4 linked regions of the Homo sapiens genome follow. The protein of the gene in region 1 purifies or fractionates together with the protein of each later gene. This does not show direct contact. Each region holds a gene or a part of one and is shown in the gene's direction. Other genes may lie near its edges.

The links. Proteins that work in one complex are often made in the same cells at the same time.
Region 2: the proteins of OSTM1 (region 1) and HEATR6 purify together in Homo sapiens (co-immunoprecipitation; one large-scale study listed by IntAct). This does not show direct contact.
Region 3: the proteins of OSTM1 (region 1) and GUF1 purify together in Homo sapiens (affinity purification with mass spectrometry; one large-scale study listed by BioGRID and IntAct). This does not show direct contact.
Region 4: the proteins of OSTM1 (region 1) and SEPTIN2 fractionate together in Homo sapiens (co-fractionation; one large-scale study listed by BioGRID). This does not show direct contact.

What each region holds. Positions count from the first base shown.
Region 1 is NC_000006.12:108,047,242-108,050,741, reverse strand, and holds part of OSTM1 (osteopetrosis-associated transmembrane protein 1 precursor), read left to right. Parts: intron 1-1,158; coding exon of another isoform or gene 1,159-1,210; intron 1,211-1,323; coding exon 1,324-1,489; intron 1,490-3,500. UniProt on the Homo sapiens protein: Required for osteoclast and melanocyte maturation and function.
Region 2 is NC_000017.11:60,044,422-60,047,921, reverse strand, and holds part of HEATR6 (HEAT repeat-containing protein 6), read left to right. Parts: intron 1-516; coding exon 517-613; intron 614-1,692; coding exon 1,693-1,897; intron 1,898-3,500. UniProt on the Homo sapiens protein: Amplification-dependent oncogene.
Region 3 is NC_000004.12:44,698,424-44,701,428, forward strand, and holds the end of GUF1 (translation factor GUF1, mitochondrial), read left to right. Parts: intron 1-120; coding exon 121-258; 3' UTR 259-2,505; downstream 2,506-3,005. UniProt on the Homo sapiens protein: Promotes mitochondrial protein synthesis. May act as a fidelity factor of the translation reaction, by catalyzing a one-codon backward translocation of tRNAs on improperly translocated ribosomes. Binds to mitochondrial ribosomes in a GTP-dependent manner.
Region 4 is NC_000002.12:241,322,425-241,325,924, forward strand, and holds part of SEPTIN2 (septin-2), read left to right. Parts: intron 1-1,791; coding exon of another isoform or gene 1,792-1,808; coding exon 1,809-1,817; intron 1,818-3,500.

The sequences.
Region 1 (3,500 bases):
GCCATTTGCAGAGGTGTAGGTATTGTTATATGTTTATATTTCAGTTTCTTGTGCACTTGTTGCTAATTTAAGAAGTTTCTGAGCTGGGCACGGTGACTACACCTGTAATCCCAGTACTTTGGGAGGCTGAGGCGGGCAGATCACGAAGTCAGGAGTTCAAGACCAGCCTGACCAACATGGTGAAACCCCGTCTCTACTAAAAATAGAAAAATTAGCCGGGTGTAGTGGCACACGCCTGTTATCCCAGCTATTCAGGAGGCTGAGGCAGGAGAATCGCTTGAAACCGGGAGGGAGAGGTTGCAGTGAGCTGAGATCGTGCCAGTGCACTCCAGCCTGGGCGACAGAGCGAGACTCCGTCTCAAAAAAAAAAAAAAAAAAAAAAAGACGTTTCTGGATTTCACTACATGTTTCAGAAGCCATTCCTCAATCACTTCCTATTCCATTGTTTTATTTTCTTATATCTATTACCATCTGAAAATATTTATTTATTTATTTTTAGTCTGTCTTCCTCACTAAAATATAAGCCACATGAGGACAAGGACTTAGGCTTTTTTTGTTCACTATTCAGTATTTAGGACAGTATTTAGGACAGTCTAGCATATAATGGGCTTAATAAACATGTATTAATTGAATGGTCAAAAAAAATTTTTTTTTCTCCATTTTATAGCCTGCCTTTACATAGGGTGCCACTAGATGGCAATCATGCCTTTTTAGGCACTATGATGCTGGAGTTTTGGGGCATTAGAGGAAACTGAGAAATTATTGGCTCAAAGTAGAGAACTTGAGGTCAGAATTAATGAGCTTAAGAATTGAGAATGTGTGAATTATCACAGCAGCTCAGAGGGAACTATAAGAACCAATAATATTCGAGATGGTAAAAAGTACTTAAAATGAAATGTACAGTGTGGCTTTTTGTTTGTTTTTACTGCTCCATTCCTATTGCCTAAAACAGTACCTGGTTTCTAGTAGGCTCTCAATAAATAATAAATATTTTGTAAATGAATAAAACAGGGCCTAACTATATTCCTCTTCATATAAGTTCTTTGTTTGAATGTACAAATGGTTGACATTCTAGAATACTTTGGTCAGTATTATGGACTTAGAATATGAAATTTCTGTATGGATATAAATTTCTACAATGACTGTATTTTGAACCAGGTTTTTTTCCTGGCAGAAGAAGTTGTCCTCAACTATCAGTAGGTTTTTAGAGGTATGTATTGAGTCTAAATTCTAGATTCCTGTTTAGTTATTAGCAAAATAATTATAAGAAATTGAAGACAAGTTAAATATAAAATAGAAAGATATTGTTTGCTCTTGTTCCAGATGAACATCACTCGAAAACTATGGAGTCGAACTTTCAACTGTTCAGTCCCTTGCAGTGACACAGTGCCTGTAATTGCTGTTTCTGTGTTCATTCTCTTTCTACCTGTTGTCTTCTACCTTAGTAGCTTTCTTCACTCAGAGCAAAAGAAACGCAAACTCATTCTGCGTAAGTTTTTTACAATTATTTATTTTATAGATAAAAGCCTGTATTTTAAAAATTTAGGCCTGTTTTAGAAATGATAGCTACTCTGAGAACTCAAAGTAGATTAGCCTAAAAGGACTCTCTGCTTTAAGTTTTACAATCATGCTTACTAGTGAAAGAGATCTGTGAAAATTTTATAAGTGTGGACAATAAAAAGTTAAAACAGGGCTAGGTGCAGTGGCTCATGCCTGTAATCCCAGCACTTTGGGAGGATGAGGTGGGCGGATCACGAGGTCAGGAGATCGAGACCATCCTGGCTAACACGGTGAAACCCCATCTCTACTAAAAATGCAAAAAATTAGCCGGGCATGATGGCGCATGCCTGTAGTTCCAGCTACTCGGGAGGCTGAGGCAGGAGAATCATTTGAACTTGGGAGGCGGAGGTTGCAGTGAACCGAGATCGCACCACTGCACGCCAGCCTGGGAGACAGAGTGAGACTGTCTCAAAAAAAAAAAAAAAAAAAAAAGTTAAAACACAGTGTCTTTCAGATGATTAAATTGAGAAAGCTAGATTACCCCTGGAATAAGGTTGGCAACAACAGAAGAATAACAACAGAGGCTTTGCACTCCTAACATGGCAATAGCAGGGAGATACAGACAGCTCTTAGACCCATCGGAGTCATGGTAGAACCACCTAAGTGTGGCAGGCAGGAAGAAACTATAGCTGACATAACAGACAGTTTGTTTGTGAACAAATTGGAATCGTAGTTCCAAGGAGATTACTTGATATAATAGTATATGCTCAATACATATTAATTCCCTTTCTTTCTCCCTATGAAATAGGCCAGAGCAAAAGAAGCACTAACTAGAGATCCCATCCAGCTAAGGAAGAGTGGCTTCTAAGTCACGTGGCTTTCTTGTTTATTATCAGAATGAAAGTACAGGCTTATGCCTTAATAATTTTAGTTTTTAAAAAAGAGAACTGTTTAGGGGAAAAGGTTAATTTTCTTTTCTCTCAAATACTATTTGTAGTCTAGGAATGTCTGATATAAAAATTCTTTTCCCTATAAATTTCGATCACTACTTCATCTAACTTCACTTCTAATATATCTAATTTTTTTAAAAAAAGGTTACCTGTAGATCAGTTTGAACTGAATTTGTAATGTTTTGTCACCTTAAAATGCTAGCTACTAGAGGGGAGAGTCTTTGTCATGGGTGTATTTATTAAAGGTTTTTTGAAGGCTGCCAGCATTCTGTAAATATGCAGTAGCTCAGGTCCTTAAAGCACTTACTTAGAATAATAGCAAAATATTGTGGGCACCTCACCATTGAGAAACTATTTTTCAGAGCTTGGTATACTTTTAAAGTTTAGCATCTTATTTGCCTTGCTAATCTATTTAACTTTATGGAAAGTATTTACTGCTTCTGATCAGGATTTTTTGTTTGCTGTCAAAGTAAAAGTCACTACCAGTGTCACTATTTGCTATGGAAGCCACAAACCTTGTAGTCATTTCTTAATTATTTTCTTTCTTTTATTTTTCCATTCCCACATTCCCCTCTCATCCCCTTTTAATTCATTAGCAAGTATGCTGCCAGTTCTGCTTAGTCCGTCTCTCTCCCTCCACTGGTAAACCCTAGCCCAAACCATCTTCATCTCTTATCTGTACTAACGCAAGAGCCCCTTAACTGGTATCCCTCCTTCCATTTCTTGATCTACTAAAATCCATACGCCACATAGTGGCTAGAATAATTTTTTAAACACAAATTCACCATGTTTCTCTACTAACTTGGAATGCTTAATGTGTTCCCATTGTACCTAGAATAAATCCAAACTTACTTTCCAGGGTCTGCTCTCCAAGCTGTACATGACCTGGCCCATAGCCACCTTTCTAAACTCGTCACATCCATTCTCCTCATTGCTCATGGTGCTGTGGACAGTCTGGTTCCTTTCTGTTCTTCTCCACTACCAAGCTCATTCACACTGCCCCTTTTCCAAGGCCCTTCCCTCTTTACTTACCTGGCTTCTTGCAAGCCA
Region 2 (3,500 bases), on another chromosome or scaffold:
AAAAAATCCAGATAGTACAAAGCAGCATTCAGTGTGAAGCCTTTCTTCTACCCTGACACCTTAGTTCCCCTCCCCAGAGGTAGCTGGTTATTCATGTGCACGTGTCCTGCTTTTTGTCACTTCAGCGTATAAGCAACATGTAAAATGTGTAAGCATTCTATTATTGACTTGTTAGAAATCCTTATTTATGATTACATAATTATCACTGTGTGATGATTAACCATTTTTCTATTACTGAACATTTGTTTTAGTCTTTAGGCTTGTAGGCTTTTATATTCAGGGAATATTTTTGTGCATGAAATCTGCATTTTGAGATTTTTTTTTTTTTGAGACATTCCTATGTGGGGAACTATTGGGTCAAAAGATATATAATGTAAGTTTCTTGATATAATCTAAGCAGATTTGTTAAACTGTTTTCCTAAACTTTTAGGCTTATACTAATTGAATATATTTCTATATGTATATATTTAAGTGTATTTACCTTTTAACATGTGTTGTCTGCTTTGGGTGGAACAGGGAAACACCAGACCCAAGTTTCCAGGAAGAGTTCTCTGGTCTCCTGCTCTTGAAAATGTTACGATCAGCTATAGAAGCATCCAAGGATAAAGACAAGGTAGACTCACAACAAAACCCAGTATCTCCCAAACAGATAGTTAATGTATTGTAGCTGCAGTGTGGTAGTTCAGTGTGGCTTGATGTTCCTCAGACTGTCCCACCAAATGTACTCCTGTTCAAAAGAGACTGAGGGTGTGCTCAGGGTATAAATGGCCCATTCCACACGTGTATGGTTTCTTTACTGTCTCCTGCCTCCTGAAAAATATCAGTGCCCATTGTAATACTACATGACATATTCAGATTCCTTTTAAAATTAACTTTTTTTTATTTTCCAAAAAAAAAAAATTGACAAGTCAGAAAGATGAGTAGCTCTTGGCTTTGAATATTACCTGTTAAACTAATAAGTTTAAAAAGCACATGTCTGGGCTTTAGGTCAGACATACATGGATTCAAGCCCTGGCTCGCCCTTTAGTAACTGGGTAAGTTTGGTATATTACATAACTTCTCTGAAGGTCAGCTCCTCACATGTAACATGGAAGTTATATACCTCACTGGATATGAAGATGCCTTATGTTAAAGCACCTAGCACAGTACCTGACCCATACCATGTGCTCACTTTAATACTACTTCTGAAAATCTGGTAATCACCCAGGAAGCCCTACCTCAGAGTAATTCAATCAGAAATTCTGAGGTTAGGGCCTCCGAATCGGTTTTAAAACAAAAGGAGAAACCTCCCCAAATGATTCTGATGGGCTGCAGAGGTTGAGACTCTAGTCTAGTAGAAAAGTATTGGACTGGAATTATGGAACCTAGCTTCTCCTCATTGTCTTGCTATCAATCAGCCTTGTCCTGTTGTTCCCGGTCCTTATACTCCATCTCAGTAAAACAAGGAAGATGGACCTCTCTGAGGTCCTGTCTAGCACTAAATAAAATAAATAAATAAATAATCAGAGAGAGGAGTTCTGTAGAACCTCACATTTCTGATGGCTCAGGATGTTAACCAGAGCAGACCTTGTGAGTTCCAAGGACTTGCTTTAAGAAGTTGAAGACCTCCTGGGTTTTTTTAAAGCTGAAATTAGACTTTTGGAAACATCTCTTTGGCCAAACAGATTTCTAAAGCATTTACATTTTTTCTAGGTAAAAAGCAATGCAGTCCGGGCCCTTGGAAATTTGCTTCATTTTCTGCAACCCTCTCATATAGAAAAACCCACATTTGCAGAAATCATTGAGGAGTCTATCCAGGCCCTAATTTCTACTGTTCTAACAGAAGCTGCCATGAAAGTCCGATGGAATGCTTGTTATGCAATGGGAAATGTATTTAAAAATCCTGCCCTTCCTTTAGGTAAGAAAGTTTCCCTTCACTCCCTGGTGGAAAGCCTCTTGGGACACACACCAATCTACGTTGTTGTTAAAGATGTTTGTCACATGTTATTTGTCATAGTATTAGGAAAAAATGGAGACATACTGAAGACAAGTTTAGGGGGACATTGAAATACATCATTACCTATACAATGGGATATATAATGGGATATTTTGTTGCCATTTAAAATTACTTACAAGAATTTGATAATCTGGAAAAATACTTCTGATGTTAAACAAATGAAAGCAGGTATTAAATAATTTCTACAGAATGATCTCAATAGATGGGTAGAAAAAAGACTGAAAGGAAATTGGACTAATTATTAACAGTGATTGCCTCTGGATGGGTAGGATTTTTTCTGTTTTCATTTTCTCAGTTGTCTACAATAAGCATATATTACTTTAATGGTCAAGAAAACAGGAAGGAAAAAAACTGGAATGAGAGGGAATATAAACTGGAAATCCCCTATGAGCTGTGTACAGAAGTGGATGCCATTAATAAATGTAAGGAGGGCATCTGTCTCTAAGTAGTGGCATGCCATGCACCTTGATATGTCATTCAGGACCAGTAGCTGCTTAGGTGTATGGATCGGAGCCTCCAAACCTCGCTCACTTTGAATGCCAGCGTTCGCTTTATTGCATCTCTCTCTCTCAGATCTGAGACCTAAGGATGTGTTCCTGGAGAGGAGAGCACACATCAAGTGAGGGGAGTCTGGCTCTGCTCCCCTTTATTGCCCAGAGCGTCCAGGCAGACCAGTCAGCTGGGAGTATGTAAGGTAGCTTCCCGGCTTCTTCCATTGAGGAAGTCACCTAAGGGTGACCTTTTGGGTTGGAGCCCATTGAGGTGGTTATCCGCCTTCTGGAGAGCCAAGAAGTCCTTGAAACCAGGGCACCTCAGTGGTGGTTGGCTCCTACCAGCCTTCCTGTATGGCCCTTGCCCTCAGCCTACTAGAGAGAGAAGTTTACCTGCATGACTTGGAGGGAAAGGGAAGCTCCAAAGAGGCAGGAAGTTTGAGAACTAGAAAGCATCCAGTAGCAGAGCTATCAAGAGCCACATAAGAAAAGGGAGCTAGAAACTGATAAAGGACTCTGACGGGTCGGATTGTGAGTGTCTCATAGCTCTAGCAGTGGCCCATTGTCAATGGCACTGGCATCCACCAAATGGAAAGGGCCTGCTTGCCGGTCTTCAGAGGCAACAGAGAAGCCAGGAAGGGCTGGGAGAGTTAAGAGAAGCTGCATTCTACTCTGTCACCCATCTTGAGTAAGGACACCCCAAAGTGGAGTGGGTAGCAGTAGCTCTGGTAAGGAGGAAAGCAGGCTGATTTCCTAGGGCCTACAGGTGTGGAGAAAAGATAGAAATCTGGGCATCTTATTCTTGAAATTGTAAGTTTTCTTTTTCTTTGCAATAAAATGCATGACTGGCTATGGCCAGAGCAGTGTCTGGATGCTGTTGCAGGTGAGCATGCAGTGTGTGGCTTGCACACAGCTCAGAAGTGCCCAGCTGAGAGGATAGGTGGGGTTGCAGTTCAGTCCACGCTCTGCCCACAAAGCCATACCCCAACGGGACAGAATCCTCCCAGAGAAGA
Region 3 (3,005 bases), on another chromosome or scaffold:
TGTCTGCCTTATGGATAATAATTTGGTATGGTTGTTAAGGTTGTACTGATGCCGCTGTAATCATATGATTGTTTCTCTTTAGAGTGACTTAGACTTCCAATGTTTTAAAATATTTTTCAGTATGGTGGTGATATTACCCGAAAAATGAAGCTTTTGAAGAGACAAGCAGAAGGGAAAAAAAAGCTGAGGAAAATTGGCAACGTTGAAGTTCCAAAAGATGCTTTTATAAAAGTTCTGAAAACACAATCTTCTAAATAATTGGTGGGAAAACAAAGAATTTTCATTGCAATTTGTAATATGCTGACAACAGAAAGAAAATTATAAAATTTGCTTGTTACTTTCAGGGTATTCAGGTTCAAATAACCTACTAGTCTTTCGTTGAAAGGGAGTAGTTAGTGGGTAGGCAAGAGCTTAGATTTTGAAGCCATGTTGCCTGTTCTCAAATATCTGTTCCAACCACTCACTAGTAAGGTGACCGTGGCCAGATTAACCTTTGTTTCCTCTTCAGTAAAATCGAGATTATACTACTACCTACATAAGTTGTTGTTGTGAAGATTAAATGAGGTAATACGTTAAATATTCAGAGGTGCAAGACACATAGTAAGCACTCAATTGTAACTACAGTTAAGTCCTTAAATGCCATCGAAAGGTTCTTAGAAACTGACTTTAAGCAAAATGACACGTAGCACAATGTTCTTGAATGATGTCATTTCCTTAAGTGGTTTGTAACATCGATGAGGAAAAAAAATTGGTTTATGCGTCATTTCATTTTATTTTTATTTATTTTTTGAGACAGAGTCTTGCCCTGTCGCCCAGGCTGGAGTGCAATGGCACAATCTCGACTCACTGCAACCTCTGCCTCCTGGGTTCAAGAGATTCTCCTGCCTCAGCCTCCATTACAGGCGTGCACCACCATGCTCGGCTAATTTTTTGTATCTTTAGTAGAGTCGGGGTTTCACCATGTTGGCCAGGCTGGTCTTGAACTCCTGACCTCGTGATCCACCCACCGTGGCCTCCCAAAGTGCTGATTACAGGTGTGAGCCACCATGCCCAGCCATGTCATTTCATTTAAAGTCACAATTTCCATGAATCTCAACAAGTGAGGACCTGCTATATTTTGTTGCATGCAGTTTTTCTTTACGGACACTAAAAGGCCCCATACTTAAGATTCCATCTACTTTAAGTTTAAAGGATTTTCAGAATCACCTTAAGTGTCAAATTTGTTAGCAGGATTAATTGATATGAATTCACTTATTAAACAGTAAACTCAAATAACATAGACATCAAATAACAGACATCTGCTCTAGTTAATGATAAAATGTTTATAGATTTTATCAGGTGGTTAGTTTGAAACTAAATGGTTTACATCTAAATTAAGGGCAGGAGCTGTCTTTCAGACATTCAAAACGCATTTGTGTAAAATGACAGGTGTTTGGTATTACCAGGAACTCATAATGACATTTTAATAATTATTGTCTAAATTTCATAATCGAAGCGATTTTAGAGTAGTTAACTTGAGATTTCACAGCCAGTAAATGGCTGTATTTCTCCAGAGCTCTCAGCTCCCATGTTTATTCAGCCAACGAACAAACCAGACTGCAGACTGTATTAGAGCAAGACAACATCATTTAGCCATTGATTTTTATCTTCTACCTTGAATGAATTGAATGAAGAAAATGTCTTTTAGGGATAAACACTATCAAGGATGAATTTTATACTAAGGTTATATGAAAGAAAAATCTCAAAACCACTAAGCCAAAGGGAAGTCAAGCTGGGAACTGATTGAGGCAAACCTGCCTCCCATTTTATTCCTAAATAAGACAGCCACAAAGATAAAATTTGCTCACAAGGGAATTCCTTATGGACAAAGAACTCAAAGTCTTCACATGAAACAAATGCATAAATGATTGCTTTCTCTGTTTCATGTTTCACTAAGCCAGATTAAGGTATAACTGACTATTCCTCTACTCTCCTCTCACATGTAAATTGTATATTCAGTGAAAGGCTAATCAGAAACTCAAAAAAATGCAACCCTTTCTCTCTTACCTGCCTATGCTTGAAGCCCCCGCCCCTCTTCAAGTTGTCCTGCCTTTCAAGACCAATGTACACCTTACACATACTGATTGATGTCTCATGTCTCTCTAAAATGTGTAAAACCAAGCTGTGCCCCAACCACCTTGGGCACATGTGGTGAGGACCTCCTGAGGCTGTGTCATGGGCACACCTTAACCCTGGGAAAATAAACTTTCTAAACTGACTTGAGAGCTGTCTCAGATATTTTGAGCTTACAGTTATTGTGAAATCATTTTAATTATAAATTAAGTGGAGATTTACTTAAAATCATGTGTAGAAGTAGCCTGTGATATAGTCCTAGATACATACATTATCATCTTATGTATCTTCCCTCCCTCTTCCAGGTTCTGATAAAAACAGATGAAATCTGAAAGACCATGACAGTAGTATTTTGAAAATGACAGTATTTGAAATTAAAAAATTGTAAAAGTGTTCTGTTCTATCACTGCCAAAGGATAAGTTACAAATTGGTTCTTGGAACGTAATATGTACTATGTGCTTGCTATTTAATAATTTACCAGTCTTAGTCTTTTTTATTCAGACTAATTTTACCTTTTTTTAACCTATGACTCTTTAGTTATAGTAGTACAAAAAAGTAGTTTTAGTTATAGTTTTAGTTGTAGTACAAAAAAGCATTTTCTGTAAGCTTAATTTCTTTCCCCTTCCCGCTTTCCCAGTCAGATGACTTTAGTGATTTGGAGTTGTGTGCTTTATAAGTGCATTCCTCAGAGGACTTAATATTACTAAGATTTTAGCAAACACTGAAATATGTTTAAACACTGTTATCAATATTAAAATAGCACCGTTTATTGACTTTAATATGTGACAACCACTGTGCTGAGCTATGTATGCTTCCCTTATTCAATCTATGTAAAAATTTTGGGGAAGTAGCTGAGACTTTTTTATTTCCCTGACAGAGCTGGGATTCAGTG
Region 4 (3,500 bases), on another chromosome or scaffold:
GAAACCCCATCTCTACTAAAAATTAAAAAAAAATTAGCCGGGCATGGTGGCGGGCGCCTGTAGTCCCAGCTACTCGGGAGGCTGAGGCAGGAGAAGGGCGTGAACCCAGGAGGTGGAGGTTGCAGTGAGCTGAGATCACCCACTGTACTTCAGCCCGGGAGACAATGCGAGACTCCGTCTCAAAAAAAAAAAAAGAAAAGAGAAAAAAAAATTCCACATATCTTTAAAAATATTGTCACATTTTTCAGACACTCAGATGCCTTCAGTACTATTTCCTTTCCTCATAAATGTAGTTCACATTGCTCTCTGTACCCCAGTGTCAAAATCTAGTTCTCAGGTAGCTCTAGGAAACTCCAGTGGGTGGCAAACATGTTCAAGTTACAGTGCTCTATGTAATGAAGTCCCTTACTCCTTGAAAGGTTTCAAAGAGAGAGGGGAAATGACATAATTCCAGAGGTCAGGGAAGTATGTATCCGTGTGTATCCCATTTGTGTCCCTAGTGTCTAACATATAGTCAGTACTGAAAAAAAATTTGAATATTATTGAAAATATGGAATATGTGCGTACATATATATATACAGTTGCTTTTATCAACTTAAAAATTTTTTTAATTTTTTAATTTTTTGTAGAGATAGGGTTTTGCTATGTTGCCCAGATTGGTGTTGAATTTTTGGCTTCAAGCAGTCCTGCCTCTGCTTCCCAAACTGCTGGGATTACAGGCGTCAGCCACTGCACCCAGCCACCATCTAATTTTTTTTTTTTTTTTAATGGAGTCTCACTCTGTTGCCCAGGTTGGAGTGCAGTGGCATGATCTCGGCTCACTGCAACCTCCGCCTCCCAGGTTCAAGCGATTCTCCTGTCTCAGCCTTCTGAGTAGCTGGGATCACAGGCACGCACCACCACGCCTGGCTGAATCAGTATTTTTAGTAGAGACGGGGTTTCACCATGTTGGCCAGGCTGGTCTTGAACTCCTGACCTCAAGCGCCACCATGCCTGGCTGAATCAGTATTTTTAGTAGAGATGGGGTTTCACCATGTTGGCCAGGCTGGTCTTGAACTCCTGACCTCAAGTGGTCTGCCTACCTCGGCCTCCCAAAGTGCTGGAATTACAGGCGTGAGCATCACGTCTGGCCTAATTTTTTTAATCGAATTTATTTTTGTAATGATAGATGCTTGTCTTATTCCTAGGGAAATATTTGAAGTAATTGAGATGCTGTCACCTAAAATAATCAAAAGGCTCCTGATTCAGTTAAAAGAATTCATTTAAGTACAGAGTGTAAGCGAGCTACACCAAAGAATGGTGATTAGCGCTCCCAGGGTGGGGAAAAATGAGGATTGTTTATATAGGCAAAATGGAGGTGCCAAACAGAATTATAACATTTTCGGAACTAAGGCTCATTTAAAGATACAAATTTGATTGGCTACTATTGATTACACTTGAAGGGATTTGTTTAACTTCCTTTTGTAAAGAAGTAACAGTCATAAGGATCTCTCATCTCCCAGTCATTTAGTCTAGTTTTGAATAAAGAATAGGGGGTCTGGTTAATATATACATCTAAACACAAAAGTCAGAAAGAATAAAAGTAGTGATGTTACACGAGCCAGCTGTCAGTGCTTAACTTTTCCCTTTGGCCTAATGCATTTGGAAGGTCCTGAAATTGTATTTTCTTTTTACATTGCCTATGTATGTGTAAGTCTTCTTCAGGTCAGTTCACGCTGTTAAATATACGTGCGTATACATACATACTATGTATGTGCGTTTATGTGTGTCTGTGTGTTTTTTTTTTAACAGACGAAGCTTCACAAAAGATGTCTAAGGTAAGATCATACTTCATGTATCTACAGCATAAGGAGAAATTGCTTTATGTTTTCAGACTGTTGACAGTCGGGACTTATATGATTCATTATTTTTAATACAACTGATACATTTGATTCATTAACACAAAGAGTTCTAATTTAGTTGTCTTTTTTTTTTTTTTTTTGAGACGGGAGTCTTGTTCTGTCACCAGGCTGGAGTGCAGTGGCATGATCTCAGCTCACTGCAACTTCTGCCTCCCACGTTCAAGCGATTCCCCTGGCTCAGCCTCCGGAGTAGCTGGGACTGCAGACACGTGCCACCACGCTGGCTAATTTTTTGGATTTTAGTAAATTCGGGGTTTCACCGTGTTGGCCAGGATGGCCTTGATCTGTTGACCTCGTGATCCACCCGCTTTGGCCCCCCGAAGTGTTGGGATTACAGGTGTGAGCCACCGTGCCTGGCCTAATTGTCATCTTAAAAGCTTGGAGCTTTCTCTTTTTTCAGGCTTCTACTTTCTTTTCTCTACACACATCAGTAACAGTCCTTTTGGCCCCCTTAGTTCATTCCCAGCAGACCAGATAATTTAGAATTCTGATAATTTATTATGATGAAATTGATGGGGCTCTTAGACTTGATAAATTGGTTTAAATCAGCCTTTGCAAGTTAGTTCAGAGATAAATTAGTGCTAAAGAACATATTCTGAGAAAAGCAGAACTTGTGGTTAACATTGCAAGATTATTATTTCTGTTTTTTTTTTATCTTTGAATCCTGTGGGTGTTCATTACTGTCCAATGCAAAATCATCATACCAGTTTTTGCATTTTATACCAGTGTTAGCATGGAACACAGATAAGCAAAAAAAAAAGTCATTATTTCACCACTCAGGAATAACCACTGTTAATATGTTACATATATTCTTTTTCACCTGTGTGTGCATTTGACTATACATTTACAAAATGTAATCCTAAAGGAAATACTATTTTGTATCTTGCCTTTTTCAATTAATAAATTGATTTTTAAAATTTCTTCTCATTTTCAGTATGCCACTGTCTAGATTCTGGTTACTTCTGCTATTCTTGCCTTCTCATATCTCTGTCCTCTCTCTCATCAGATACCCTTCTGTCAAGGAATATTGATGCTTCAGTGTAGTCATCTATGATCTTCTCATTCTGTCTTTTCTTTCTTGGTCTTTGACACTAGATACTCAACATCCCACCCCTAATTTGCCTGCCTCACCCTTGATGAAACTCTGTTCTATAGAGCTAGAAGCACAGCAAGAGAGATGCTTTTTTCCTCGATACTTTTCAGAAATGCATTGCACCTAATACCTGGGAGAAGCTATTCTTTAGCCAAGTTTGTTGAATGAAACCATTCATTCAAAGTACTGTCAGCTGTAGCAGTACTTTGTAAGCTTGACTGATTTTCCTGGAACTCCATAGTCTCTCAAGTCGAAATTTGAAATTGCATTAAGATGTATTAAGCATGTATCTTCTATGTATTGTTAAATTCCTAAACAGAATACTGATTAACAAAATGTTAATTTTCAGTCGCATACAACTAAGGAGTTATACTAGATAAGTTTTTCTTTTTTTAATGCTCCTAGTTGAATACTACTGGTTTTCTGATAGAAGTATGACCTTCTGGAAGTGTTTATACTTTTTAAAAAATTTGTGAAAACTGATAACCTATGTTTGTTTCATGTCT